Linked DNA regions of Homo sapiens: all the other regions are linked to region 1. Evidence: fine-mapped expression QTL. A gene starts in region 1. Each other region holds a variant in brackets. All regions are shown on one strand. Distances are between the middles of the regions.

The links.
Region 2: its variant is fine-mapped to the expression of CDKL1 in blood mononuclear cells (TOPMed, PIP 0.94).
Region 3: its variant is fine-mapped to the expression of CDKL1 in whole blood (TOPMed, PIP above 0.99).
Region 4: its variant is fine-mapped to the expression of CDKL1 in cerebellar hemisphere (GTEx, PIP 0.96).
Region 5: its variant is fine-mapped to the expression of CDKL1 in whole blood (TOPMed, PIP above 0.99).
Region 6: its variant is fine-mapped to the expression of CDKL1 in whole blood (TOPMed, PIP 0.92).

The regions. Positions count from the first base shown.
Region 1 is chr14:50,394,854-50,399,929 of GRCh38, forward strand. CDKL1 (cyclin dependent kinase like 1) reads right to left here and starts at 2,028. Exons shown (of 10, transcript NM_004196.7): 1 at 1,971-2,028; 2 at 848-1,476. The coding sequence starts at 1,015. RefSeq lists silencers at 1,732-2,181, 2,121-2,346 and an enhancer at 1,940-2,439.
Region 2 is chr14:50,187,796-50,192,871 of GRCh38, forward strand. It overlaps SOS2 (SOS Ras/Rho guanine nucleotide exchange factor 2), which reads right to left. Exons shown (of 23, transcript NM_006939.4): 5 at 702-905. Among named protein-coding and RNA genes, the nearest start is that of SOS2, 41 kb to the right of the region's middle. The variant C/T (reference allele first, on the strand shown) is at 2,246.
Region 3 is chr14:50,223,126-50,228,201 of GRCh38, forward strand. The region is part of intron 1 of SOS2 (SOS Ras/Rho guanine nucleotide exchange factor 2); the gene reads right to left. Among named protein-coding and RNA genes, the nearest start is that of SOS2, 5.9 kb to the right of the region's middle. RefSeq lists an enhancer at 2,683-3,209. The variant A/G (reference allele first, on the strand shown) is at 2,513.
Region 4 is chr14:50,150,935-50,156,010 of GRCh38, forward strand. It overlaps SOS2 (SOS Ras/Rho guanine nucleotide exchange factor 2), which reads right to left. Exons shown (of 23, transcript NM_006939.4): 13 at 2,136-2,239. Among named protein-coding and RNA genes, the nearest start is that of VCPKMT, 37 kb to the left of the region's middle. The variant C/T (reference allele first, on the strand shown) is at 2,741.
Region 5 is chr14:50,332,305-50,337,380 of GRCh38, forward strand. CDKL1 (cyclin dependent kinase like 1) reads right to left here. Exons shown (of 10, transcript NM_004196.7): 8 at 2,261-2,317; 9 at 1-128. Among named protein-coding and RNA genes, the nearest start is that of DMAC2L, 23 kb to the left of the region's middle. RefSeq lists an enhancer at 3,239-3,860. The variant A/G (reference allele first, on the strand shown) is at 1,957.
Region 6 is chr14:50,345,372-50,350,447 of GRCh38, forward strand. The region is part of intron 3 of CDKL1 (cyclin dependent kinase like 1); the gene reads right to left. Among named protein-coding and RNA genes, the nearest start is that of DMAC2L, 36 kb to the left of the region's middle. RefSeq lists an enhancer at 2,140-2,434. The variant C/T (reference allele first, on the strand shown) is at 2,441.

The sequences.
Region 1 (5,076 bases):
AGGCCAGGCTCGATGGATCATGCCTGTAATCCCACCACTTTAGGAGGCCAAGGTGGAAGGATCACTTAAGGCCAGGAACTCGAGACCAGCCTGGCCAACATAGCAAGATCCCATCTCTAAAAAATGTTAAAAAAAATTAGAAAGTGATCATTTCACTTCTTTAAGAAAAACGCTTCTTTTTAGAAACGGGACATGATGATGCTCAGCAGTAAATACATATGAGGTGTAATGAGAATCTGTGAGCTTCCTAGCAGTTTGAAAACAGGTAAATGTTAATTCTCTTAATAGACTGAGTATACCAATAGGAAATACCTTAGAAGTTTAAAAATCAACAATGCCAGCAAAATTGAATTGTCTTACATTCCTATACTATCAAATTGTAATGGTCCTTGAAAACCCAGGTCTACAGGTGGGAGAGAAATTATGGGGAAGAAAAATAAATATCCCACAGCATCTCTAAAAGTGAATGCCACCTTACCTGGCACTTTTGTCTCTGCTTTCTAGTTCATTATATAATTAGTGACTTGTGCACAGATATCCCATTTGTGTCACTGAAGTCAAAAGGCTATGAAGTAAGATATAACCATGTCCCATGACATTCTTTTAACATAACATGACTCACTTTATTTCTTTCATCCCTAAAAATTCACTTTAAAGAAAAAGTGGATCCCGGAGCAGTGGCTAGAACCTGTAATCCCAGCTACTCAGGAGGCTGAGGCAGAAGCATGGCTTGAGCCCAGGAGTTCCAGGCTGCTGTGAGCTATGATCACATGGCTGCACTCCAGCCTGGGAGACAGAGTGAAACCCTGTCTCGAAAAAGAAAAAAAAGGAAAAGTGAATCAATTACCTTGAGCATTCGGATTTCCCGAAGGGCAATTTTCTTTATGACAGGGTCATCTTCTGATTCCAGAAACTTCTTGATGGCCACAATCTGACCCGTGTCCCTGTTTCTACATTTGAAAACAACTCCATAGGATCCTTCTCCAATTTTCCCAATTTTTTCATACTTCTCCATCATAGAGGAATAAATCTTCTTAAAATGGATCTTCAGCCGAGAATGGTGGCTCACGCCTGTAATCCCAGCACTTTGGGAGGCTGAGGCGGGCAGATCACCTGAGGTCAGGAGTTCGAGACCAGTCTGGCCAACATACTGAAACTCCGTCTCTACTAAAGATACAAAAAATTAGCCGGGTGTGGTGATGGGCGCCCGTAGTCCCAGCAACTCAGGAGACTGAGGCAGGAGAATCGCGTGAACCTGGGAGGCGCAGGTTGCAGTGAGCCGAGATCGCGCCACTGCACTCCAGCCCGGGCGACAGAGCGAGATTCCGTCTCAAAAAAAAAAAAAAAAAAAAAAAAAAAAGAAAGAAAGAAAAGAAAAGAAAGGATCTTCACATAGTTTGAAAACGTCGCTTATAAAATATTGGCACCAACGGACTGCACTAGAGCCCCACCCAACGATGAGTGTTTGTCACGGTCCTAGAACAGAACAGCACATGTTAAGGAATGAAGAGTGTACCCGTGTCGGCAATGGCAACGCGATCAGGAGTAACAGCCTAGAGTTAGCTGCCTCCAGTAACCCGATTTTAATCGCCCGTTAAATACCCTGTAAGTTAAAATGTAACTTGCCATCCTAAAACGAGCCGAGCTGTAAGATAAGCTATCTTTTTAACGTTATCGTTCATCCGATCTAAGACACCTGAGCTGGCTGGAGTACGGGGAGGGCTAAGGGCTTCCCCGGTTCTAATTTCGGGTCTCATTTCCCTGCGGCAAGAAGACACCTCCCGGCTCCCCGCGGAGGCGGCGGCGAGGCTTGGCCGCAGGAGACCAACCCGCGCCCCGCGCCCCACGCCCCCGGGACTGGGAAAACCCTCCCGCGCCCGGACGTGCACCTCAGCCGCGCCGCGCAGCATGGAGCGGTGCCACGTGTTGGCCAGGGACGGCCCGCGCCTCCTTGCCCGCCCGGGACTCACGGCGCCGCGGCGGTCAGGGACGGGCCTGGCTCCCGCCTCGCCTTCTTCCGCCCAGCTCGGCTCGGCGTGGCTCGGCCCGCGATCCCTATGGGAACCGGCTCCCGCCCCGGGTCTGCCTGGGCGGGGCCGCCGCGCCCCAGCTTCCCACCCCCGGCCCGGCCCAGCCCGGCCGCCCTCCCGGCTGCAGGGAAAGGCCTCGGAGGGCCGCCCTCCGTCCATGGGAGCTGTCCTGACCGCGGGCCGAGTCCTGCTGCCGGGAGAGCAGACCTGCTAGATTTGCAAACTTCCGCAGGCCGTGCAAAGCGCAGCTGTAACCGCGTCTGCGGAGCAAGACGCCTGCGCTAGGAGCCCCTCCTGAGCGGTCCACATTTCCCTGCAACAGCAGTCCCCACACCTCAGAACCGCGGTTATTCCCTTTGGTCCCTTGGAGGCATCTTCTGTGTCTGTGCTGATCAGTGCTGCGGCGTCAGTGAATGAATGAGAGGGAGAAAGGAAAGAAGAGGAAGGCGTGACTGCAGAAATTGCTTAAAGTCAGCACTTTCCTCTACAGTAGGGAAGGTTCCACGGCAGTCTTCTGCTGTGGGACTTTTCTGGTGTGGGAGGTGGAAGCTTACAGAGTCTGCCTTAATTGTTTTTGGTTCCTTTCCCCCATCTTTCTCCCAACGGACTCCTACTGCTCAAATCTGAGCACACTGGCGGGAAGCGGATGGACCTGGGGAAATTATGAAATCATGTCAGTTGCCACTGGGCAGAGTGCCTCACACTTTATCATCCGTCCCGTTCCCAGTGCCAGCATCAATGCGGGTACTTGTCCTGGAAGCAGTACCCGAGGAGAGAAAATTAACACAGTGTCTATGAAACAGGGGCCAATCCCGTGTCAAGCAGCATGCTACTAAATGTAAACCCAGGAAGGGTTCAGAAAGGAGCCTGGAGCTGAGGAGAGAGGGCTGGTGGCTGCCCTGGAAACCCAGTACAAGGATGGCCTAGAGGTGGTCTGTGAACAGAAATTGTTTGCAAATGGCAACCATTGATCTGTTTTCTGTCTCTATAGTTTTGCCTTTTCCAGAATGTCATGAAAATGGAATCAGACCGTATGTAGCCTTTTGAGGATAGAGGATCTCCCCCACCACCCCAACTCCAGTGAGCTTTCAGATGAGATTGTAGCCCCAGATGACAATGTAAGTTCAATCTTGTGAGAGACCTTGAGCCAGGGGCACCCAGCTAAGCCATACTTGGGTTCCTGACCTCTAGAAACTGAAATATGTTTGCTATTATGTTTTGGGGTAATTTGTTATGCAACCATATGTATCTAACACAGAAGCCTTTTATTAATAGGAGGTTGAGAAAGTTCACTTTCATTCCTAGTTTGCTTAGTGTTTTTGTTTGCTTTTTAAAATTATGAATGGATGTTGAATTTTATCAAATGCATTTCTTCATCTAGAGGTGATCATTTCCTTTTCCTTTCTTTTCTTTTTTTTTTTTAATTGAGAGGGAGTCTCGCTCTGTCACCCAGGCTGGAGTGCAGTAGTGTTATCACTGCTCACTGTACCCTTGAACTCCTGGGCCTAAGCAATCCTCCCACTTCTGCCAGGCCTGAGTAGCTAGAATTATAGGTGTGCACCACCTAATTGTTTTTATGTAGTCTGTTGATACGGTGAATTATATTGATTTTTAGATGTTGAACCAACCTTTTGTTCCTGGGATAAACCCAACTTATTTATGATTTTATCATTTTAATGTATTGCTGGATTTGATTAGTAATATTTTATTGGAAATTTTTACATTCATGTTTTGAGAGATATTGATGTATAGTTTTCTTGTAATATCTGCTAATTTTGGCATCAGGATAATGCTGATCTCAGAAAATGAGTTGGGAAGTGTTTATCTTCCCTTTTATTTTCTAGAGATGTTTACATTAAATTGGTATTATTAATTCCTTAAATGTTTGGAAGAATTTTTTTTGTTTTTTTTTTTGAGACAGTCTTGCTCTGTCATCCAGGCTGGAGTGCAGTGGTGTGATCTTGGCTCACTGCAACCTCTGCCTCCCAGGCTCAGGCGATCCTCTTGCCTCAGCCTCCAAAGTAGGTGTGCCACCACGCCTGGCTAATTTTTGTGTTTTTTGTAGAGACAGGGTTTCACCATATTGCCTAGGCTGGTCTCCAACTACTGAGCTCAGATAATCTGCCTGCCTCAACCTCCCAAAGTGCTGGGATTACAGGCATGAGCCACTGCACCCCGCCTTCTAATATAAGCATTTAATGCCATAATTTTTCCTGTAAGCACCACTTTAAATACATCACAGAAATCTTAATATGTTGTATCATCATTTTCATTCAGTTCAAAATATTTTTTTTTTTTTTTTTTTTTTTGAGATGGAGTCTCACTCTGTCACCCAGGCTAGAGTGCAATAGTGTGATCTCGGCTCACTGCAACCTCCGCCTCCCAGGTTCAAGCGATTCTCCCACCTCAGCCTCCCAAGTAGCTGGAACTACAGGCATGCACCATCATGCCCAGCTAATTTTTGTATTTTTAGTACAGACAGGGTTTCATCATGTTGGCCAGGCTGGTCTTGAACTCCTGACCTCAAATGATGCTCCCGCATTGGCTCCCAAAGTGCTGGGATTATAGATGTGAGCCACCATGCCTGGCCCAAAAATATTTTCCTTGTGACTTCCTTTTTGACTCATGGGTTATTTTTGTAGTGTGTTAATTTCCAACTATTTGGTGATTTTTAAAGATATCTGTTATTGATTTCTAGTTTAATTCCATTATTTTCAGAGAACTCAGTTTATATGACTTAAATTCTTTGAAATGTTTTATTTTGTTTTATGACCCAGAAAGAATATGGTCTATGTTCATGAATGTTTCTTTTTGACAATTAAAAAAAATATTTTGAAATGAAGTGAGAAAGTCAGTGTGAATTTCCCCAGAGCTGCATCGTCTGAAGTTCATACCAGGTTAAATCAAGTTTGTCTGGAAAATTAACTTTATGGACTCCACAACGTCAGTACCCAAAGAGCCTGGAACTGTGCCAGGCCTAGTGGTAGTTAAAGTAGGAGCCAGTGTACTGGTTATTTATGCCCAAGTAGGCAGTGAACCAGAAAGC
Region 2 (5,076 bases), 210 kb before region 1:
TATTTTTTTTAACCCCATGGTATTCTGAGCTTCAAACTAAAACTTTAAACTACTGCCTTAAGGTACTTACCAAAAGACAGAAAAATGCAGAGGTCTTCCTTTCCTAGACCATACATCTTTTTCACCACCTCCAAATGAATGACTCTAAATATCAGAACTGCATAACGGAAAATGATTTCACCCCAGTATAAACCTCCTTCTAATTTTGTGCCTAATTTTCATTGTCACTGTACCTATTATATAACAATTCACATGTTTATAAAGCCCACAAATACATGAAAGTATTTTTAATGTACTCATAAAGTATTTAAAGTTACTATTTATGGGCTGGGTGCAGTGGATCATGCGTATAATCCCAGCACTTTGCGAGGCCAAGGCAGGTGGATCACTTGAGGTCGGCAGTTTGAGACCAGCCTGGCCAATATGAAGAAACCCCATCTCTACTAAAAATATAAAAAAATTAGCCGATTGTGGTGGTGCATGCCTCTAATCCCAGCTACTCAGGAGGCTGAGGCAGGAATTGCTTGAACCCGGGAGGTGGAGGCTGCAGTGGTGCGAGCTGAGATCACGCCACTGCACTCCAGCCTGGGCAACAGAGCAAGACTCCGTCTCAAAAAAATAAAAAAAAGTGACTATTTATGATTTTAAGCTGGTCTGGTTTTTTGGGGTACACAGAATTTCAAACCCAAAAAGGTACTTACAGAAGGTTTAAACAGCTTTCTATCAGAAAGAAAGGCTTCTCGAAACACTTTTATGATCATATTTAATTCCCGTAGATACTGTCTTTCTTCTGCGATTTCAGTTCTGACAAGATCATAGTAGTTTAATTCACCAGAAGAACTAGGTTCATCTTCACAGAGAGAAACCAAACCTATGTCATCCTGATCAAACATGTCCATCAAAACCTGAGAAACAGAAATCAATAATGTATAAATTTATTTTCTTTACTTTTATAAAAACTGCCTCAAAGTACTTGAAATCTATACGTTATTAAACAGGGCTGGGTGTTGTAATCCCAGCACTTTGGGAGGCCAAGGCAGGAGGATCACTTGAGGTCAGGAGTTCAAGGCCAGCCTGGCCAACATGGTGAAACCCTGTCTCGACCAAAAATACAAAAAATTAGCCAGGCGTCATGGTAGGCGCTTGTAATCCCAGCTATTTGGGAGGCTGAGGCAGGAGAATTGCTTGAGCCTGGGAGGTCAAGGCTGCAGTTGAGTCATGATCACACCACTGCACTCCAGCCTGGGCGACAGAGCGAGACTCCATCACACACACACACACACACACACACACACACACACACACACGCACACACAAATATTACACAATGAGTTGTGTGTATTATAAGTAAATTTATATGATAAAACCTAGAATAAAAGGAAAAAAAGTTGTTGAAGGTGGGAAATATTCAAATAAAATCGAGTATGGCAAAATAAATATTTCTGGAGATATGAACTAATGGTGAAATATGTACTAATACATATGTATATGTATATATGTATACTGTAATACACACACACACACACACATAATAGCAAAAAAAAAAAAAAAAAGCAAGCCTGTCTTTGGGGAACAATAACCCGAGCCAAAAATCCCAGTTCAGCCACTACTCGACTATGATTATGAACACATTTATTCTTTTGAAAGTCACATTCCTTATGAGTAAAATGTAGCTGATAAGAAGAATTCAATGTGGTAATGTATATAAAATGCATACTACTACATCTAGCAAATAGTAGGTATTCAACATGGTAGTTCCTTGCCATATTATAAGGATGACAGTACATATTTGAGTAGGGTTAAAAGGAGAAAAGTGAAATGCTACTATGGTAGAGGCACACGATAGATCAGTGCGATGCATTTCTGATGCACATTTACTACAATGACCACTGCTATTACGTTCATTTGCTAAACCCAAACATCTCACAGATGCTTAAATTGTTGTAGCAACCACTTCTTCTTTCAGAAATGCTACCATGGACTTAGGTCAACCAACAGGCAAGAACTAGCTATAAATCAAAGTGAAAAAGAAAGTTGACTATACTTTATTTTTTATTTTTTTTTTTTTTGTGAGACACAGTCTTGCTCTCTCACCCAGGCTGGAGTACAGTGGCATGATCTCAGCTCACTGCAACCTCCGCCTCCCAAGTTCAAGTGATTCTCCTGCCTCAGCCTCCTGAGTAGCTGGGATTACAGGTGCACGCCACCATGCCTGGCTAATTTTTTTTTGTATTTTTAATAGAGA[C/T]GGGGTTTCACCATGTTATTCAGGCTGGTCTCGAGCTTCTGACTTCAAGTGATCCACCTGCCTCAGCCTCCCAAAGTGCTGGGATTACAGGTGTGAGCCACTGCGCCTGGCTGTGACCATACATTTTATAATTAATAATACTTTTTTTTAAAAAAAATGATTGGACCTAGTTAATTATATATTTAAGACTGACCGAAACGTACCCAGAGAGTTCAGCATAAAGGTATACCCTGAAAAGGAAACTACAAAAAGTAAAAACTTCAAAGGGATGAGAGGAAATTCTGACAACACAATAACAGATATTCATTCATTCATTCTGAAAAACATCTACTGATCACCATAAACTGTACCACATGTTGGTAAAATATGCTAATAAAGTAAACATGAACTCTGCCTTCCTAATCTTTTTGAATCTAACTCAGAAATATCTTATAAGCATCTTTTAAATCTGGTCAGCTCTCTCCATCTTACCGCAGGCTTTAGATTACTCCACTAAACAATCACCATCTCTTAAAAAGATACACAAGTTTCATAATTTGATCTGCCTGCCACAGGTCTTCCCAACCCCAGTTCTAAAATCATGTTACTAAAAATAAATGATACATAAAAATGATACTGGATTTCATTGCCTTCTGCATAAAATCCTAACTTCTTTAGGATAAAGGCCATTCATAATTTAACTCCAACCCACCTTCCTAATCTCATGTTCTGTGACACTCTCAAATCCCTCCCTTCCCCACTGCTTACTCCATGCAATCCACCTTCTTGTCATTGGAGACCATCATCCCCACTTCCCAGCCACTTTAAATTTAAAGAAACCAGTAAGGCTACACAGGGAATTTGGTGATGAACTCTGATTTCAAACAGACATGCAAAATAAAGGAAGACATAAGACATAAAAACACACAGAAGAGCTACCACCCTCTTCTCTTCCCCACCAGAGACCCTTTTAGAGTAGGTCATACTTGCTAGCTGTAACTTCTTGCTCCCATTCACTTAGCAAGCCCATTACTATATTAAAACTGCTCTCACTATTGATCTAGTGTCAAATCTAATGGTGTGTTTTAGTCTTCCTACTTGTTTTCTCTAGTTTTTGACACAGCTGACCATTCTCTCATTCTTAAAACTCTTAAAACTCTCAGGGCGAGGCATGGTGGCTCATGCTTACAATCTCAGCACTTTGGGAGGCCGAGGCAGGAGGATCACTTGAGGCCAGGCATTCAAGACCAGCCTGGGCAATATAGCAAGATTCTATCTCTACCAAAAGTAAAAAAAAATAATAACCAGGTATGCTGGTAGACACCTGCGGTCCTAACTACTCTGAAGGCTGAGGTGGGAGAATCACTTGAGCCCAGGAATTCGAAGCTGCAGTGAGCTAATATTGTACCACCACATTCTAGCCTGAGTGACAGAATGAGATCCTATCTCTAAATAAGAAAAAACACATATAAACCCCCCAGCTCCAAACAATTTTTCTCTTCTTGGCTTCTGATACACCATTCTGTCAGTGGGGCCTCCTCTATGACTTACCTTCTCTACCACCCACTCCAGAGTTCCATTCTTAAAACTCTTTTGGTCACATAATACCAAAGTTCCTGAATTTAAATGCTACAGGGGTCAGGCAAGTAACATTATAATATATAAGAAACAGTGGGGATTATGGTAAACCGGAAGGTACATGCACCTAAAGAGGAAGTGTGCTGCTCAGTGCCAGCTGTTTTCTGTTAGGCATTCTGATTTTCTTTTTTCATGAAAAGTCTGGGATTTACATTTTTATGTAAAATTTTTAGATCTGTAAATATAAATGGATGGCAAATAATTCAAAAATTTAAAAAACAAACCTAGAGACCCTATTCACTAGAAGGTCACCAGTCTGAAACTGGGAGGATTGCTTGAGCCCAGGAGTTCAAGACCAGCCTGGGCAACAAAGAGAGACCCAGTTTCTACAAAAAAATTTTAAACACAGCCAGGCATGGTGGTTCAAGCCTGTGGTCCCAGCTACAAAGGAAGCTAAGGCATGAGGATCACTTGAGCTCTGGAGGTTGAGGCTGCAGTGAGCCGTGTTCACACCACCGTACTCCGGCTTAGGTGAGTCCTTGTCACAAAAAAAAAAAAAAAAAAAAAAAAAAAAAAAAAGGAGCGAGCAAGCTAGCTCTTGAAACAGATGGAGTAATACTACCATGAAAGAGAAAATATATTCATACCCCACTCCTGTTAGCTTCAGATTTTTCTGGCCAGGCATGGGTGGCTCACGCCTATAATCCCAGAACTTTAGAGGCCAAGGTGGATGGATCACCTGAGGTCAGGAGTTCAAGACCAGCCTGCCCAACATGGCGAAACCCTGTCTCTACTAAAAGTACAAAAAATTAGCCAGGCATGGTAGCACGCACCTGTAATCCCAGCTACTCAGGAGGCTGATGTGGGAGAATCGCTTGAACACGGGAGGCAGAGGTTGCACTGGGCAGAGATTGCGCCACTACACTCCAGCCTGGGCGAAAGAGCAAGACCTTGTCTTTAAAAAAAAACAAAAACAAAAACAAAGGCCAGGCGCAGTAGCTCATGCCTGTAATCCTAGCACTTTGGGAGGCCAAGGCAGGCAGATCACTTGAGGTCAGGAGTTCGAGACCAGCCTGGCCAACACGGCAAAACCCTGTCTTTACTAAAAATACAAAAATTAGCCAGGCGTGGTGGCAAGTGCCTGTAATCCCAGCTACTCAGAAGGCTGAGGCAGGAGAATGGATTGAACCCAGGAGGCAGAGGTTGCAGTGAGCCAAGATCACGCCATTATACTCCAGCCTGGTTGAGAGAGTGAGAGTCTGTCTCAGAAGGAA
Region 3 (5,076 bases), 170 kb before region 1:
GAGCAACCGGAAGGATGGAGTAGCCATTTATTGATATGTTAACCACTACAAAAGAAACAAGTTTGCAGGGGAAGAAAAGGATACAGTGTTGGTTGAGATGCCTCTGTGGAAATATCAAGTAAAAAGTTGGCCGGGTGTGGTGCTTCATGCCTGTAACTCAAACACTTTGGAGGCTGAGGCAGGAGGAATGCTTGGGCCCAGGAGTTGGAGACCAGTTTATGCAACACAGTAAGACCCTGTCTCTACAAAAAGTTTTTTAAAAATTGGGGCTGGGCGTGGTGGCTCATCCCTGTAATCCCAGTACTTTGGGAGGCCGGGGCGGGCAGGTGACGAGGTCAACAGATTGAGACCATCCTGGCCAACATGGTGAAACCCCGTCTCTACTAAAAATACAAAAAAATTACCTGGGCGTGGTGGCACACGCCTGTAGTCCCAGCTACTCGGGAGGCTGAGGCAGGAGAATCACTTGAACCTGAGAGGTGGAGGTTGCAGTGAGCCAAGATTGCACCACTACACCCCAGCCTGGCAAAAAAGCGAGACTCCATCTAAAACAAACAAACAAACAAAAAATTAGCTGGGTGTGGTGGCACACACCTGTAGTCCCAGCTATATGGGGGCGGCAGGGGGGTGAGGTGGGAGGATCATTGAGCCCAGGAGGTTAAGGCTATAGTGAGCTGTGATCTTGCCACTGCACTCCATCCTGGGTGACAGAGTGCGACCCTGTCTCAAAAAAAGAGTTGAACATTCATGTTTAAGAAAGAGGTCTGAGCCAGAAATGTAAATTTGGTAATTATCAGATTTAGATTATACGTGAAGCAATGAGGCAGGATGGCATCTCCAAAGGAGGATGTGTTAATAGAAATAGAAGTCTAAAAATTGGCCAGGCGCAGTGGCTCACGCCTGTAATCCCAACACTTGGGGGGCCGAGGCGGGCAGATCACAAGGTCAGGAGTTCAAGGCCAGCCTGGCCAACATGGTGAAACCCCATTTCTACTAAAAATATAAAAAAAAAAAAATTAACCAGACGTGGTGGTGCGCGCCTGTAATCCCAGCTACTCGGGAGGCTGAGACAGGAGAACTGGTTGAGCCTGGGAGGCAGAGGTTGCAGTGAGCCAAGATCGCACCACTGCACTCCAGCCTGGGTGACAGAGCAAGACTCCGTCTCAGGAAAAAAAAAAAATATATATATACACACACACACACACACACACACACACACACACACACACACACACACACATATATATAAATGGGCTCTGGGGAGGTCAGAAGGATGTGGTCACAGAAAGATGAGGAGGAATCAAGGGAAGGGAAACTAGAAGGAATATTCAGAGAAAAAAAATCCCTGAAAGCTTGATATTCTTCTGGAAGCCAAATGAAGAAAGGATTTCAAAAAAAGAAGAGATCAACTGTCAAATGCTGCTAATAGGTCAGTTAAGAAAGAACTATAATATACTTTGTATGTAAGAAGTAGTTTTTGGCAGGCAGGTGGCTCACTCCTGTAATCCCAGAACTTTGGGAGGCCAAGGCTGGAGGATCACTTGAGTCCAGGAATTTGAGACCAGCCAGAGGACATAGCAAGACCTTGTCTCCACAAAAAAAATAAGAAAATTAGCTGGGTGTAGTGGCACATGCCTGTAGTCCCAGCTACTCAGGAGGCTATAGTGGGAGGATCATTTGAGCCCAGGAGTTGGAGGCTGCAGTGAGCTATGATCATGCCACTGTACTCCAGCCTGCGTAGCAGAGCAAAACCCTGTCAAAAAAAAAAAAAAAGAGAGAGAGAGAGAAATAGTGTTTGAGTTTACAAAATGACCTAATGAGGAAGAAAACTGGAGTACAGAAAACTTTACTTAGAAGAGCTAATACTAGTCCTTATATCTAGATCTTGGTATTATTTTCATCTTGTTGCTTCACTTCTACATGTTAAAATGTGAATGTGTAATACTTTATCCATTTGAAAAAACTTTGTACTAGCATATATTCTTATGTAAAAGAAGAAAATAATTTTTTATGGACATGGGGTCTCGCTATGTTGGCCAGGTTGGTCTTGAACTCCTGGCCTCAAGCAATCCTCCCATCTCAGCCTCCCAAAGTACTAGGATTACAGGCATGAGCTACTGCACCTGGCCCATGGAAGAAAATAATTTTTGGTTGTTAATTTTTAACATGAGATAATGCTAAATCCACTAGTTACATTAAAATTCCTTTTGATTCAAATATGCAGGATATAATCAAATTACTGTTCCCTTGAAAGAGAGTCCATGGTTAATACAAAAGACATATAGTTGATTTATGTCAAGGGGTAACACAGGTAATGCTTTGAATACTCAGCATAAAACACTTTAATGGAATATTATTGCTCCAAATATACCATACCAAAATTAAACCAAAAATAGAAGGCTACTTAATCATTGCTGACAGGGAGCCAAGTACAGCAAGTTAAAGTACATTCCTACCGCTCATCTAGTTCTGGCTGAACTCTTCGGGTCAGTTTGGGTCATTATTAGTTTGG[A/G]ATAATTCCAAATGACTCCCTCGAGTTCTACTGTTACATTCAGCGGCTTTAGGAATTCCAGAACAGGCTCATGTCACAAAAATCACAGGATCTCTTATTAGTTTTTGGCTTTGACTTGAAGTAATCTTTTCAAAAAGCAATTCTGATCAAGTTAATCTAATTACTTTGCTATGTAAATGAGAACCCAACAGGACTTCCTATTCTCAGGCAGAGACCTTAACTCAGTGTACCTACAGTCTACCATACTAGCTTCATCCACTTATTCTTCTTGTTTTTTAAAATAAGTCATTAAATTCAGAATCTGAGACCTATTCAAAACAAACAAACAAACAAATCATGTTCTTACTTTCCCCTCAGCCTCAAATCCTTCCCCCCCGCCCTTTTTTTTTCTTGTTAATTCTACTGATCTTTCAGATAATTGTTTACTTCCTTATTGTCTGTCTCTCTGCCACAGCCACTTAGAACACAAGCTTTATAACAGCAGGGGCTCTGCTACATCTTCCGTATCAAGAACAGTGTCTGCAGCCAGGCGACGTAGCTTACACCTGTAATCCCAGCATTTTTGGAGGCCAAGGTGGGAGGATCGCTTGAGCCCAGGAGTTCAAGACCAGCCTGGAGACAGTAATATTACTATATTTGAATATATAATCCAGAAAGAAGCACAAATGTTGCTTGCTTAAAGTCTTCTTTGACTCTCATATATCAATGACACCAGTTATATTTTCTCAGATCACCCTGTACTTTTCTTGTGGGCCTCAGGAAAGATCCAGTGCCATCTTCTAAAACAAACTTCCAAGAGACATTTGTACAAACGCAGAAACACTAGGATCTCAGTAGAACTTCACAAAACCATTTTTAAATCAAAGCCCCTACCGATCTTTTTCCTTGCCGTAGACTGCTATTAATTAACCCAGACATTCTCTCACACCTCTTGCCTTTTAGATATCTAAGAGCAAATTGTCACAGGGTGGGGAGGTCGATATTTAACCTGAATCTAATTGGACTCAGGAACAAAGTAATTCAACCAATTCTTTCTAGCTTTCTCTGACATTTTTAACTACAGCTGGCAAGAAAACAGCCATGTTCTTTTCTATGGCTAGCCTGGTGAAAAACACCTTACAGAAAAGACATCTACAAAATAAATATCAGGGACTGTAAAATCTGATAAAATGATTTTGAGGCATATTTCCCATATGAAGAATGCTGATTTATCTCAACATATAATCAAATAACACATGCATATAGTACCAAGGGATTTCAACGACACAGGTAATAAACTGCATTTACAAATATACACCATGCTCTTTTTTCCCCAAGTAACACAATAGCTTCAATGATCTTGGGGAGCAGTGGTGAAGGCAATTATGTTCTAGGCTCTTTTAGGGAAGATACATAATTTAGCAGTAATGTTAACAATCCATGCATTATCCATTAGTAGTGTCATTTCACTCTGCTTTGTAGCTCTCTGTTTTTAAATGATCTAGGTGAGGTTCTATTTTAAAAGTTTAAGAACAAGCAAAAAGCTAAAGAACACCACATTTCTATTCCCAAAATTATTTTTCCATAAACCTATTTGTCTATCTCTGTGTTTCTTTTTCTTTCTTTCTTTCTTTTTTTTTTTTTTTGAGACAGAGTCTCGCTCTGTCGCCCAGGCTGGAGTGCAGTGGTGCGATCTCAGCCCACTCTAACCTCTGCCTCCCATGTTCAAGAGATTCTCTGCCTCAGCCTCCCGAGTAGCTGGGATCACAGGCATGCACCACCACACTTGGCTAATTTTGGTATTTTTTTTTTTTGAGACAGAGTCTTACTCCATCGCCCATGCTGGAGTGCAGTGGCGCGATCTCGGCTCAACTGCAAGCTCCACCTTCTGGGTTCATACCATTCTCCTGCCTCAGCCTCCCGAGTAGCTGGGACTACAGGCGTCCGCCACCACGCCCGGCTAATTTTTTGGGTTTTTTTCTGTATTTTTAGTAGAGATGGGGTTTCACCGTGTTAGCCAGCATGGTCTCGATCTCCTGACCTCAGGTAATCTGCCCGCCTTGGCCTCCCAAATGGGATTACAGGCATGAGCCACTGCGCCCAGCCCATCTCTGTGTTTCTATGTAATGCAATGAATACTTGAGATTGGTTTTTTAAAAATCCCTTGAATTTTCAATGTTGACAATGGTGACTTTGTCAAATACATATATATATGGATCTATATATGGGTATATATGGATATATACATGGATATAGACATAGATATCCAGTTTTCATAAAAACTAGCCAAAACTGGAAAATAAGCAAAAGAATACTGGCTGTGTTTCAGTACAGTGCTATGCTTGAATCTTTTATTAATTTCTACTGACTATTTTACACATCTATAAGATTAAGTTACAGCTTTTCAGCAGATAGAGATGCAAGTAATTTTTTTTTTTTTTTTGAGATGGAGTCTCGCTCTGTCGCCCAGGATGGAGTGCAGTGGTGTGATCTCGGCTCACTGCAACCTCTGCCTAGCAGGTTCAAGTGATTCTCCTGCCTCAGCCTCCTGAGCAGCTGGGATTACAGGCACACACCACCACACC
Region 4 (5,076 bases), 240 kb before region 1:
GGCTGGTCTCGAACTCCTGACCTCGTGATCTGCCTGCCTTGGCCTCTCAAAGTGCTGGGATTACAGGCGTGAGCCACCGCGCCTGGCCTAATTTTTGTATTTTTAGTAGAAATAGGGTTTATCCATGTTGCCCAAGCTGGTCTTGAACTCCTGGGCTCAAGTGATCTGCCTGCCTTGGCCTCCCAAAGTGTTGGGATTACAGGCATGAGCCACTGTGCCTGGCCATATTTTCTTATATTTAGTTTGAAAAGGGATCTGAACAAGATTGCACATATTGCACTGAGTCAATGTGTCTCAAGTCTCCTTTAATCTACAGGTTACTGCTTTATTGCATATTTTTGCTTGCACTTTGTGGAAGAAATTGTCATTTGCCATGTTTTTCTGTCCTCTATATTTTCTGTAAAGCAGAGATATAGTGACTTGGTCTGATTCAGGATTAATTTTATGACACAAATACTTGCCAAGAATACTTCTAACAGGAGGCATATAATGTCTAGTTAACTTTTTGTGATAGTACCCATCCAGTCATGATAATTCCCTAGGTTTATTATTTTACTAGGACCTGAGAAATGTGATATTCTACCATTCCTTCTTCACTTACTAGCTGAAATACTTCCACAAAAATAAACTTTTCCTCATGAACTATTTGGTTATTCTGAAGTATAACTAGTATAGAAAAGAACTTTGGACATTAACATAACCATTTACTTAATTTATTCTAATGTGTGTGTGTATTTTAGAAGCTTCTTAGATTGTGTCTAATCCAGTATTCTCATTTAGAATATAAATTTTTGTTTTTTGTTTATTTTGAGACAGGGTCTCACTCTGCCCAGGCTTGTGTGCAGTGTTGCAATTTCGGGTCACTGCAGCCTCGAGCTCTGGGCTTAAAAGTGATCGCTTCACCTCAGCCTCCCGAGTAGCTGGGACTACAGGCACATGCCACCATGCTTGGCTAATTTTCATATTTTTTGTAGAGACTGGGTTTTGCCATTTTGCCCAGACTGGTCTCAAACTTCTGGGCTCAAGCAATCAGCCCGCCTCTGCCTCCCAAAGTGCTGGGATATTCTAGGTGTGAGCCATTGCACTGGCCTAGAATACAACTTGAAAATGTAGTATTATGACAATTTCAAGGCACACATAAAAATGTATCATAAACATCTCAAAGTAGAAACAAAGGAATAACATTCTTAACTTTAAATAATATTCCCCTTAAAGAACAAGTAGAACACGAAATAAGTTACACTTGTTATAGTATTTGTAATGCCCTATAATGTCAGATAAAACATAAATGTTCTTGATTCAATAATATACATTTGATGACACATTTGTTTAAATGTTCATGGCCTAGGGTTTCATTTCTTGGGCTATGATTCTGAAACTTAAAATAGAAAACTCCTCTCTTTCAGATTTCAGAAATATACCAAAAACATTTCCAGAAGATGTAAATATTATAAGAAAGCTGTTAATCATTAAAAGAATAAGATTAAAGAAAGAAAACATAAAATTACACATATTTTTATTCAGTTGAAGAAATGGCAACCTTGCAATGAGATAAAATTAAATAGCTTAAATTTATTAAAAAGAACTTTCGACTTCTTTAAAAGAAATATTCTCCTCAAAAACTTGAAAAGGCAAAGTTCTGAGACCTCAGATGATTGGTCTAAACATATGTGAGTTTCTTGCTGTCTATAAAAAACATTCCAAATGTTATTTCAGCTTTTTAAAAATGAAAAATGCTGGCCAGGCATGGTGGCTCATGCCTGTAATCCCAGCACTTTGGGAAGCTGAGGCAGGTGGATCATCTGAGGTCAGGAGTTCAAGACACCAGGCTGGTCTTGTGGTGAATGTGGTGAAATACCATCTCTACTAAAAATACAAAAATTAGCCAGGCGTGATGTCATGTGCCTGTAGTCCCAGCTACTTGGGAGGCTGAGGCAGAAGAATCACTTGAACCTGGGAGGCGGAGGTTGCAGTGAGCTGAGATGGCACCACTGCACTCCAGCCTGGACAACAAAGCAAAGCTCTGTTTCAAAAAAAAAAAAGAGAGAGAAATGTTTTAGTTTCTTAAAGTCACACAAATTTGAACATAAACTCATGTTCAATATAAGATTCAATCAAACCTTTATATAATATACCTCTTACACTTGAAATGAAGGATTCTAGTCTTTCAAGCAATTCCAAGTCTCTTTCAAAGTCATAAAAATGATGTTCAACCCAATGCCGAAATACATTTAAGATCCTGATAAAATGGAAAGAAACACATTTTAGTGAAACATAAGTGTTCAATTACACTTCTTCCTTCTCTAATGCCACGATAATAGCTTTACATACAAGGGTCAACATAATACTCAAAGACTCTCTAATCTGTATTTAATTAATACTTTAAATGCTTCAATGACAAGAGGAGAGTAGGTCTCCAAACGGTGTATTATTTATTAATAAAATGTATACTTTTAAAATATTTATAAGCATAAAAATAGTGGTTTCTGTGCTTCCCATTTATGTTAAGGAAAAGTACCCTTTATTCATATGTAGAAAACTTATGCTCTATATTACAAAAGCTATTTTAAGTTCATAAAAAGCATTTTTAAGATTTAAATTTTGGTACTTTTTCACTTAAAATGGAAAACCAACTAAGATGTACTGTATCTGGTTCTAAATGCAAGTGCTATCATCAAATTTCTTTCTTTTTTTTGAGATGGAATTTTGCTCTTGTTGCCCAGGCTGGAGTGCAATGGTG[C/T]GATCTCAGCTCACTACAACCTCCAACTCCCAGGTTCAAGTGACTCTCCTACTTCAGCCTCCCAAGTAGCTGGGATTATAGACGCCCGCCACCATGCTGGGCTAATTTTTGTACTTTTAGTAGAGACGACGTTTTACCATGTTGGCCAGGCTGGTCTCGAACTCCTGATCTCAGGTGATCCGCCCACCTCAGCCTCCCAAAGTGCTGGGATTATAGGCGTGAGCCACTGCACCCAGCCTATCATCAAATTTCTATGTAATCTACACATATACTACAGTCTCTTATTTCATTTCAAAAGACAAAAATAGAACTGTTTTGTTTTACAGTATCACAAAAATGATTACCTATAACCTTGCAAAGAGAGATTTAATCAACTATGCAAATGGAAAGGAAAGGAAAGACAAGGGGAGAGGGAAGAGGAGGGAAATGGAAGAGGAAGAAGGGAAAAGGAAAGGGAAGGAAGGAAACTAGTAGGCAAGCCATGGAAAGAAAATATTTGCAAAATGTTTATCTGACAAAGGACTGGCATTCAGTCCTACCCAATTTACTCCTACAACTCAGTAATAAAGAGACAAGTATCTCAACAAAAATTAGAGGATTTGAACAGATTCTCCACAAAATAAGTATGAATGAAATACCACTACATCCAGCAGTATGGCTAAGGCACAAAGACTGACATTACTAAACACTGGTGAGAATATGAAGCAACTTGAACATTGTTGGTGAGAATGTTTTGGAAGTTTTGGCAGTTTCTTTCAAAACTAAACATACACATACCTTCTGACCCAGCCACTCCACTCTGAGTTGTTTACCCAAGAAAAGTGAAAAATATTCACAGTAAGACAGGTAAGATAAAGTTCATAGCGGCTTTATTCATAATAATAAAAAACGAGAAAAAGCCCATGTATCTTTCAATGGGAAAAATGAATAAACTGGTATATTCATATAATAAAACACAACCTCGCAATAAAATAAGCCATTGATACAAATTCAAAAGCATGTTGAGTGAAAGAAGACACAAAATTGAGTTTTTAAGAATGCATTTATTAAGACTCTAAAACAGGTAAAACTAATCTATGGAGGGAGAAATTGGAACACTGCCTTTGGGCAGTGGGAACAAAAACTGATGAGAAGGAACATAAGGGAACTTTCTGGGGTGTAGTAACATTTGATATCTTGAAAGGCGTTTGGATTATGGAGATACATGTATTTGTTAAAACTCAACAAAAGTACACTTAAGATGTGTGTATCTTCTGTCTTCAGTGGCAGCAAGAAAAAAATGTATTTAATTATATGCACATTTTAGAACAAAAGAAAAACAAACACTGAACTGTTAATGACATACAAGTTGAAGTATTTAAGGAGTGTACTTCAAAATTCATACAAAAAAATGAACTGATAGATGAATGATAAATGAACACATAAATGAATAGATATGAATAGATGAATACATATCTAGGTGGTGGGTTTATGGGTGTTCATTGTAAAATTCTCAGTTTTGCTGTATGTTAAAATTTTTCATAATAAAATGTTAGAAAAATTACTACCACCCATTTTACTAGAAATCTTTCAATATTTATATAAACAGGTTTAATAACTTGGCTTGGATTTCACAGTTTTCCACTCCATCCAATTCCATACAGGTAATCTCATCTACTACTTGCAATACAATGCCTACATTCCTCTCAGGTCAATGTCCTTATCTGTGTCCTCAGCACACCATTCTCATTTCTGCCTTCTTGTCTTTGTTCATACTATTTCTCATGACCCTGAATACCTACAGTCACCTTTCTACCTATCTAAAGCCTATACATCCTTTAGGGGCAGTCTCAGATTTTACCTTCTCCAAGATGCCTTCCCTAATTACTCTGGCCTAATCTTTGCTATTCCTGAAATTGTATAGGGATGTATTTTTCTAAGTCACTTAAGCACTCCAAGTAGAACAATATATAACTGTTTCATGTGTCTTTTTCCCCCAGTAAAGTCCCCAAGAAAGCCACAATATCATGACAGTCTATGTTATTTTTGTACTTAGCATAGTTATAAGTACAGGACTGAGAACACAGCAAATGCTTAGAAATACATAAAGAGCTTATATGACTGAGAAACGAAGATTATACTCCCACCCCCTACCCCACCCAATAGCAACCTCATAAATGTATGTGTCATATCAAGGGATTTAATGTGATTGTAGATAAGTACAAATGCATCACAGCTAGTAGAAAAGAATTACTTATTTATTGCTGATACATAAATAATCTCATCTTCTTATACAAAGAATGACGTTAAAAGTTTTAGTGAAAGACATATAGCTGGGAGCACTATCATTCTTCTAA
Region 5 (5,076 bases), 63 kb before region 1:
AGGGTCTTCCTTGTTGGTTTGTTGTGTTCTTTTGCCAAATCCTCTATTTCTCTGATGTTTTCAAAATATGGGTGATGCAACAGCTGTTCACATGTCAGCCTTTGAGTAGGGTCCATGTGGAGACAGCCCTAAAAGAACAGAAAATTCCTTCTTCTTACTTCTTCAAAATTGTATTAACTTATTAATGTCATTTTTTTCTTCTTTGAAAGATGAAACTTCAGTTGCAATAAGAAGGGGGAAAAGGCAGGAAAACACACCAGTCATGATTTTAGTTCCTTCCAGTCATTCCTAAATGGCACTCACATATTAAATAAATAGTTTCTAGAAGTAGTAATGAAAAATCATTTTCTCCACCTTATTCTGTTCTTGAAGCAATTGGTACTCTGCCCTGGGAGAGTAAGATATAATTTTAGAGTTTACCTCAGTGGCCAAATGGGGTAATCCATTTAGCCAGTTTGGTCCCTTGCATGTACTTTGTAAAAACTAGTGTTTTTATTTTAAAAATGATATTTACACATGATAACAAATACAGTTAATACAGCATACAGCAAAGTCTCCACCACTGTAGGTGTTCCCTTCACCCTTCTAAAATCAGCTACTTTTTTTTTTTTTTTTTTTTGGTGTATCCCTCCAGAAATAGTTGATGCATTATAAGTATATATGATCATGTATATAAGGAGAGGCATAACGTACATGCCTTTATATTACATCATTCTTAACTATTTTTGTTGCAACTAAGTAGGCCATGGAGCTCATTCTTGGATAGATTAGATTAAATTTCACAACTACATACTCCAAGGAATTGACTCAGTTTTTGTTGGTTATGTCAGAGGTGTTGAAACCACAGCAACACCATCTTGAATAGGGGCTGGGTAAAATAAGGCTGAGACCTACTGGGCTGCATTCCCAGGAGGTTTGGCATTGTTACTCACAGGATGAGATAGCAGGTCGGCACAAAATATAGGTCACAATGACCTGATGATAAAACAGGATGCAGTAAAGAAGCCGGCCAAAACCAAGATGGTGATGAAAGTGATGTCTGGTTGTCCTCACTCCTCGTTGTACACTAATTATAATGTGTTAGCATGCTAAAAGACACTTTCACCAGCACCATGACAGTCTACAAATACCCATAGCAATGCCCAGAAGTTACCCTAAATAGTCTAAAAAGGGGAGGAACCCTCAGTTCCAGAAAATCCCTGCCCTCTCCTGGAAAACTCATAAACCACCCCTTGTTTAGCATATAATCAAGAAATAACTGTAAGTATACTCAGTTGAGCAGCCCACAGCACTGCTGCCTATAGAGTAGCCATTCTTTTATTCCTTTACTTTGTTAATAAATTTGCTTCCACTTTACTGTGTGGACACGCCCTGAATTCTTTCTTGCATGAGGTCCAAGAACCTTCCTTTGGGGTCCGGATTGGGACCCCTTTCAGGTAACAGTTACATTATCATTTATATTAACTCATTATTTAATACATCAGTAAATAAATAATTTTTAAACCATGTGGGACATTGACTGTAACTTGCAAACATTTTAGTTGATACCATACCTCATTTTACATAAGAGCTATATTTCTAAATATATATATATATAAATATATATATCAAGTTTTTAAATGTACTTCAAATGTACCAGGGAGTTAGCTATTTAAAAGGATCCTGCAGCTAAGGATTTTCTGAAGAAAAAGTTCCCTTTGTAAAACAATCACCACCCCCCTGAAATTTCTGTTTTGTGTAAATTTAGACTTCAAATATAATGTTAGGTTTATTTAAAGTGGAAAATACTTGCAAATGTTTTCTTAATAGGATGTGATCCATTTAAAAAAATTGAAAATATACTTTTCCAAGGAGAATTTTTTTTTTTTTTGAGACGGAGTCTTACTCTGTCACCCAAGCTGGAGTGCAGTCGTGCAATCTCAACTCACTGCAACCTCCGCCTCCCAGGCTCAAGCA[A/G]TTCTCCCGCCTCACCCTCCTGAGTAGTCGGGATTACAGGCGAGCGCCACCACGCCTAATTTTTTTTATTTTTAGTAGAGACGGTTTCACCATGTTGACCAGGCTGGTTTTGAACTGACCTCAGGTGATCTGCCTGCCTTGGCCTCCCAAAGTGCTAGGATTACAGGTGTGAGCCACTGCCCAGCCAGGAGAAGAATTCTAAAAGGAACACTTTTCATTGCATGGATTGACATAAGTAATTCAGATTCCCCAGTGATGACAACTGCTGTGTGCTTCCTGGTCTGTTGGAAGCCATGATTTTTACCTTTAGGAGCCCCAGGGCAGGATAAGAGATGTTTGGGAATTTTAATTCAAGTGGTTCCTGTTGAAAAGAAAAGAGGTTTTTAATTTACAGCATGTATTCAAATTAAGGTTACCTCAAATTAAATCTTTTGATAGAAACATTTTCCTGGCACCTTCCTCACGTCCTCCACCCTTTGCCCACCCAACCTCCTGCCCAAAACAGTCTCCCTTTGCCTTTTTCACAAGCTTTCTCTCCCCACCTCCAAATCGCTTTTCCAAATTTGCTTCGTAACTACTCCCTTAACTTCCTGCTCTGATACCAATGGAGATAGCAAATTATAAATAAAAATACTAATGAAAAAAAACTTTTCTGAGCAGTTTTTTTTTTGAGGGGGTGGGGGGGCTCAAGTTATATAACTTGCCTTTCCTGAGAATAATTTTTGGCATTTATAGTGTGATTTATAAAAAGGTAGCTGGCTGGGTGCGGTGGCTCATGCCTATAATCCACTCAGGCCAAGTCTGATGGCTTGAGCCCAGGAATTTGAGACCAGCCTGGGCAACATGATGAAACCCTGTCTGTCTCTCTAAAAAAAATACCAAAAAACTAGCTGGGGGTGGTGGTGTGCGCCTCTAGTACTAGCTACTTGGGAGGCTAAGGCGGGAGGATGGCGTGGGTTTGGGAGATTGAGGCTGCAGTAAGCCATAAATGTGCCACTGCACTCCAGCATGGGCGACAGAGCAAGACCCTGTCTCAAAAAAAAAAAAAAAAAAAAAAAAAGGCAGCTCTAATTCTAATTATATAAAGGGAGCTGCAAAATAGATGTTTTTCCCCTACCCAGGTGAACAGATGCTTCTTGATTTTCTGGAATAAACACTGTTGTCTCCTCCCACTAGGGCCTGCTGCTTCCCTTCTCAGCCTGCTGTTTAAACAGTCTCCTGTGGGGCATTCGTCAATCTCCTTTTGGCCGTATAAGGCGATTTTGCGCCAGTCACGTGCTGGAGACAATCAGGAATAACACTATAAATGGGAGGAATGCCGAATGTCAGGCAGACAAACAGGCCAGTTAAAGAGACATACCACTGACAAAGGCTAATTGAGCAGAGAGGCTGAGAAAATAAGAGCCAGCCAAGCTGAGCAAAATAAGTGACTGCAGTGCATTGTGTGTATAAAAGTGGCAGTGTGTGAGCTGCCGACTGGAGTGACTGGCCAGGCTCATCTAATCAAACAGTCCTGGTGCTGTGGCCAGCTTTCACAGTACAGTATTATTTTGGACAGGCAACCAGCTCCCAATAACCAATTCTGGATTGTACACATACTAATCATTGATAAGAGTAGGAGAGAAGAGCCTCTGTTTCAGAGTTCCCTATGTCAACAGGAGAAAAAAAAAATCCTAAAGTAGGTTTGTATTAGCCCTTGACAGTAGCCCCTGTTGCACCCTCATACTTCCACTCATGCTCCATAGCTTAAATATTTCTCTTGTTCTTTCTGTCGGTTGAATCTGAGCATCACTGGGGTTTGACGTGCCATTGCTATATCATCGAGCTCTGCTGTCTCAGCAACAATGTCTGGATGAGGCCAACTGGTTGCCTGTGATACGCTGGAGCCCATCTGTGAGCGTTTCACAGCCCCAGAAGCAAGCAGGCCTCCCTCTGTCAGGGTTACTGACAGGCAGAGGGACTGGGGCACAGATGTTCAACCAGTGCAGCCCCCGCACTGCCTCTTCCTGTGTTTCTGTCAACAGGAAATCTGCAGGACAATCTCTGGGAAGCCATGGGAAGCTTCTTACATTTATGAAACCTGGGTTATTTCTGAGGCTTCACCAACAGACAAGTGAACAGGAAATCACTAGGGATATTTAGTGCACAACTGGGAATGTCCAGATCACAAGGAAGCCAGATGGGTCACCTCCCATATGTCAGGTGTCATTCCTGCCCCTCCGTCCCAGCAAGACCCACTTTGAATGCTAGTGCTACAGGAGGAAGAGGCAGTGGAGAAGCAGAAACCTTCATTGTGGGACAAGCCAAGAGGTTAGGGAACAAACAAAACACAAGTGGTAGAGACAGAACTTCCATCTGAAAACTGAAGGGTTTAGTGAGAAACTGGAGGGTTAGTTTCATTTTTAAGATACCTTCCTCAGTAGAAACTCAAGATTTCACAGACCTTAATTATGCTCTGAAATGTTTTTGATTACAATACAGGCTCATTAGAAGACATTCAAAAATATAAAAAATCATAAAGTTACCCCAAAATCCCACCCAAAAGAGATATCCACTCTTAGTATTTTGATATATATCCTTGCAGCCATTTATTTCACAAATGTAAAAAAAAAAAGCTTTGTGATTTCCCAGATGTTGTCACATTATTTTGTATTTATATATGTAAATATATGTATATATGCATTGTGTGCATATTACATTTTTATTAAAACTTTGTCAAATTATACATACTGGTTTTTTTGTTTGTTTTGTTTTTGTTTTTGTTTTGAGACGGAATCTGGCCCTGTTGCCCAGGCTGGAGTGTACTGACGTGATCTCGGCTCACTGCAACCTCCACCTCCCAAGGTCAAGCCGTCTTCCCACCTCAGCCTCCCAAGTAGCTGGGACTACAGGTGTGTGCCACCGTGCCTGGCTAATTTTTGTATTTTTAGTAGAGACAGGGTTTCATCATGTTGCCTAGGCTGGTCTCGAACTCCTGGGCTCAAGCGATCCACCTGCCTCGGCCTCCCAAAGTGCTGGGATTACAGGCGTGAGCCACCATGCCCAGCCTACACTGTTTTATAACCGTCTTTTTTTTTTTTTTTTAACTACATGGTATTTCTTATTTTTAGAGACAGAGTT
Region 6 (5,076 bases), 49 kb before region 1:
CCTGGTAACTTAAGCTCCATTTTCACAAGGAATTTTTTATTGATGTAAAGTTAAGTTACTATTCAGCACAAAAGATGCTGTTTATTTTCTCAAGTTGCCCCAAACAGACAGCCTTGAAGCAGGACTCATCTTCCATGTGTGGGCATGTGGTCTCTCAGAGCAGCATTGCTGTTGTTTGTTTGGTTTTTTAGATAATGAAGACTTTACTGATTATAGCAAAGAGCTTTACATTGCAAACCATTCTATTTGTTTTTTAGCATCCCAGATCTGCCCTACCAGGGTCTTGATGCAGTCTCTCTTGCTCCCCCATCGTAAATTGTTATTAAATGTTAATAATAATTTAAAAACCTGAGGCATCCTGGTTCTTTCCCTATGCTGCCATGGCAGCCAGCTGCAGCCCAGGTACATCTTTCTACTCTCTCCTCCATCACCACAGCTAAACTTCAAGCCACTGCTCCCAGTACTTCTTCCCTGACTCACATCTTTTATTACCAGGGCAACCAGTAGTTCCAGCAGGTACTTTGTGTGAATTAGAAAGAGGCATCTCGCCTGGAAACATTTAAAACAACAACAAACCAAGGCAGGGAGTGTAAGAAACGAACCACAGAGAGAGTGCATTTATTTTCTGAGACCCCAACCCACTGGCTGGACTTACTGTTTTGATAAACATTCCACAGTGTTGCTGTGGTCCTCAGCCAAAACGAATAAGTAAATCAGGGAGGAAGCTCTTGAGTAGCTGTGTTAAGGGGACTACAAAAAGTCACTTGTAGCCTCTGAGAGAGGCTACAAGGCCACTGTTGTCACAGGCCAGACGTTCAGGAAATCCTTTCAAGCAGATCAGGGGGTGTTTGAACAGAGAGTGGGATCACATGAAGGAAAGGAAGAGGCCACTTCCAGGAAGGCTAGTTGGGACATTGCTGGACCAGGTCTATGTCCCTGTGTTTGAAGTTGCTTCTCTCCAAATTCTCTTTTCCTTGTTTGAGCGGCATATAGGCATAGATGCTAGAAAAAGTCACTGTCGAGAAAAAAGGCTTAGAAAAATGCAACTAAGATGAGACATTAGGGGGAATGCTTTTCCCCAGCCTCCACTTTTAATTTTTTTTTTTTAGGGTCAGGGTCTTGCTGTGCTGCCCAGGCTGGAGGCAGTGGTGCTATCATAGCTCACTGAACTTTGGACTCCTGGACTTAAGGGATCCTCCTGCCTCAGCCTTCCCAGTAGCCTCTACATTTTGTCCAGAAAAATGGAATATATTTTGATTATTCAATAAATTAAATTTTTGGTTTTTTTTTTTTTTTTGAGATGGAGTCTTGCTCTGTCACCCAGGCTAAAGTGCAGTGGTACAATCTCAGCTCACTGCAAACTCTGCCTCCCAGGTTCAAGCGATTCTCCTGCCTCAGCCTCCAGTAGCTGGGATTACAGGTGTGTGCCACCACACTCAGCTAATTTTTGTATTTTTAGTAGAGACAGAGTTTCACCATGTTGACCAGGCTGGTCTCAAACCCCAGACCTCAAGTGATACGCCCACCTCAGCCTCCCAAAGTGCTGGGATTACAGGTGTGAACCACCATGCCCGGCCTGCAAATTAAGTATTAATATAGGGTTACCAGTACCAGGCAACTTTAGTTCCTACAAACATTTCCCCAAATAAATTATATAAAAGGAGCATATAAAAGTAAATTATAGTTGCATATCATTATTGCTCCTTTAATCCCCAGCACAGCTAATCCCCAGAATTACAAAACTCTCAAATGTAAAAACTCTGTACAAACTACTTAGTGCCATCTTGAACTGGCTACTCACTTCACTTCTTTACTCAGTTTCTTTTCTGTAATGCAGAGGCCTCAGACTCTGAGATCCCTTTTAGCTGAAACACTCATAATAAGAGGGGCCAGTTTTTCACTGTTGGAGAAGGGAGTTACAACTATAAAAAGGGGAAAAATAGATAGAATATATTCTGTGGTGTTGGATTTAGAGAGAGAGAGAGAGAGACAGCGTGAGAGTGCTGTGCTAGAAGGGGTTGATCACCTTATATAGGATGGCCCAGAAAGGTTCTCTGGTTAAGGGAACATCTAAAATAGTGGTTAAGTGGTGAGAAGTGGCCAGATTTGGGCTATATTTTTAAAATAGAGCTTCCAGGATTTTCTGAGGGATTGGATGTGGGAGAAAGAGAAGAATCAAGGAATGACATCAGGTTTTTAGCTTGAGTAACTGGTACACAGTGGTGCCTTTTACTCAGGAGAACACTGGAGGGGAAACTGGTTTGGGGGAAGGGAATGCTTACTGGACACCCAAAGGAAGACTGTGAGTCAGCAATTCTACATTCAGAAGGAAGGTCAGGCTGGAAATATGAGTTTGAGAAGCATAGCATATGGGTGGTATTTGGGGCCTAGGACTGAATGAAGCCAATTAAGGAGTGAATCCAGCTAAAGAAGAGGAGCT[C/T]GGAAGGAAGCTGTGAGACCCTTCCCCACAGAGGAGCAGAAAGAGGAAGGGGACCCCACAAGGGCACCTGAGTTGAGAGCATCAAGTGAATAAGACAACACTCAGGAGAATACAGTATCACAGGACCAACTGAAGAAAGTGTGTCAAAGGACTTCTGAATTAAGATGATGGATTAAGCAAGCCCAGCTAATTTTGTTCCCTCCTGAAACCTGACTAGAACTACGCTGAAGACTTCTAAAGACAAAACCTCACAAGGTCAGAGAGGACAGGAGAAGAGATAACAGCAACACAATGTGGAATCCAGAAAGCAACTGAATGAAAGATAATTAACTTAACAATCCTAGAAAGCGAAAATCTAAGCCAGGAGAGGGAAGGTGGAGAACCAACCAATTCATCCAGAAAGAATCCTCAAAAGGCTCGGGAAGTAGCAGCCAAAGTCTCTATGGAACTAGGAGCTAAGGAGTATGGAAAAAACTGTTTAGAAAATAATTAAATCCCTAGATCCCCTCCTCTATCATTTGCCCATAGGGAAACACTCTCCACTACTGGGCAGAAGGCTGGAGCTTTGTTTCTGGAAAGGATAAAGCAGAGGACATTTGGCATACGTGAGATTGTGGATACCGTTCTGAAAATGTGGATACTGTTCTGAAAACAGGGGATTAAAGGACTGTACACATACAAAATGCTGAATGCTGGGATTCCCCACCCCTCTTCCCTCACTAGACTCTGGGAAACCCGGCAGGCAGACTTCACTCTCCAGGCACAATATTCAAAGACTTTTTTGGGAGAAGCTCAGAGGGAAAGCTCTGAAGATTCTGACACTGGGGTTCCACCAGCAAATGGCCCAGCTAGAAAACCATAGTGAAGCTCAGAGCTTCCAGTAGTTCCTTGTTCTTAACTATGAGCATATAACCAGAGACTATATGATGCCCAAGAAAAGCCTCTAATAAGAAAGTAGAAGACCAGAACAAACAGAAAAAAGCAACTTAAAAGAAACAGAAATTATGGAGGATGAAGAGAACATTTTTAAATACCATTAATATCCTCAGAGAGAACAGGAAAGCTGTTGTATCCATGAAATAAGAACAGGATACTACAAGAAAATGGGAGGACCAGTTCAAGAGTCCACATCCCAATAATAGAGGGTACAGAAAAAGAAAATAGGTAAAACAATGAACAGGAAGTCAATAACAAAACAATTCAAAAATTTTTTTCTGAGGCAGAAAAGGCCCAGCAAGTGCCAGGATAATGGATGAAAATCAAGACACACTCATGAGTTTCATAATCAAAAACACTGAGCACAAAGAGAATCTCCTACAAGTTTCTGGAAAAAGAAACAGGACTTCACAAGAGAGCAGAAAATAGAATGGCATCAGGCTTCTTGGCACTAGAAGATAGAAGACACTAAAATAATGACTTCAAAAATTTGAAGGAATATTATCTTCAACCAAAAACCAATAAACAAGCCTATATCCAAACAAAATACCAAACCAGTGTGAGGATAGAATAAAGCATGTGAGGGCAAGGTCTCAACCTCTTATTTGTTCCTGTACCTCTCATCTGCTCTTTCTCAGGAAGCCCCTCATGGATGCAGTCCACCAGAAAGGAGCAGTCCATTATCAAAGAAGATTATGTGGGCTGGAGACCCAATGCAGGAGGGAAGCAGCAGGAGTTTCTGGGAGGATGGCAGAGGGAGATGACGGGATAACTGCACTCCAGGTGGCAAAAGCAACCCATCCTGACAGGACAGTGTGACCCAAGAGCCATGCACAGTAAGGGGTATCATCGCCATGCCCTCTGCCTCATGCAATCTTAAATAAATATGAATATATTCAACAAACTTAACAGCTCTGGAAGAGTCTGGGTGACTGGCTGGACCCTTCAGGCTAAGGCAGATGTTTTGATGTTCTTTGTTCTTCTCTCTTGTCTTTTTGTTGTTGTTGTTGTTGTTGTTTGTTTTTTGTTTTGTTTTTTTGAGACGTTGTCTCCCTCTGTCACCCAGGCTGGAGTGCAGTGGTGCTATCTTGGCTCACTGCAACTTTCTCCTTCTGGGTTCAAGCAATTCTCCTGCCTCAGCCGCCCAAGTAGCTGGGATTACAGGCACACACCACCACACCCAGCTAATTTTTGTATTTTTAGTAGAGATGGGGTTTCGCCACGTTGGCCATGGTTGGCCAGGCTGGGCTCGAACGCCTGACCTCAGGTAATCTGCCTGCCTTGGCCTCCCAAAGTGCTGGGATTACAGGTGTGAGCCACCGTGCTTGGCCAATACTTTTTTTGCAGAAATGGGGGTCTTGCTGTGTTGCCCAGGCTGGTCATGAACTCCTGGGTTCAAGTGATTCTCCTGCCTTGGCCTCCCAAAACACTGGGATTATAGACATGAGCCACTATGCCTGGCCTAAGGAAGATGTTCTTAAAATTGTAGCCCGTGCTAGCAAGGCTAGGGAACTCATTCCACCTTAAGATATTTGTTTCCACATTGGTGGTAAATAGTGGTTGTGGCTGAGCTCTAGGGCAGAGTGGGGAAGGGCTAGAACAGGTATGAAGAAAAGGGGCTCAATTCCTTCTCATTCTTTACTCCCTTTAATAGCTCTTCTAGCTCAAAAGCAAGCTCTCCTTTCAGAGCAATCATACAT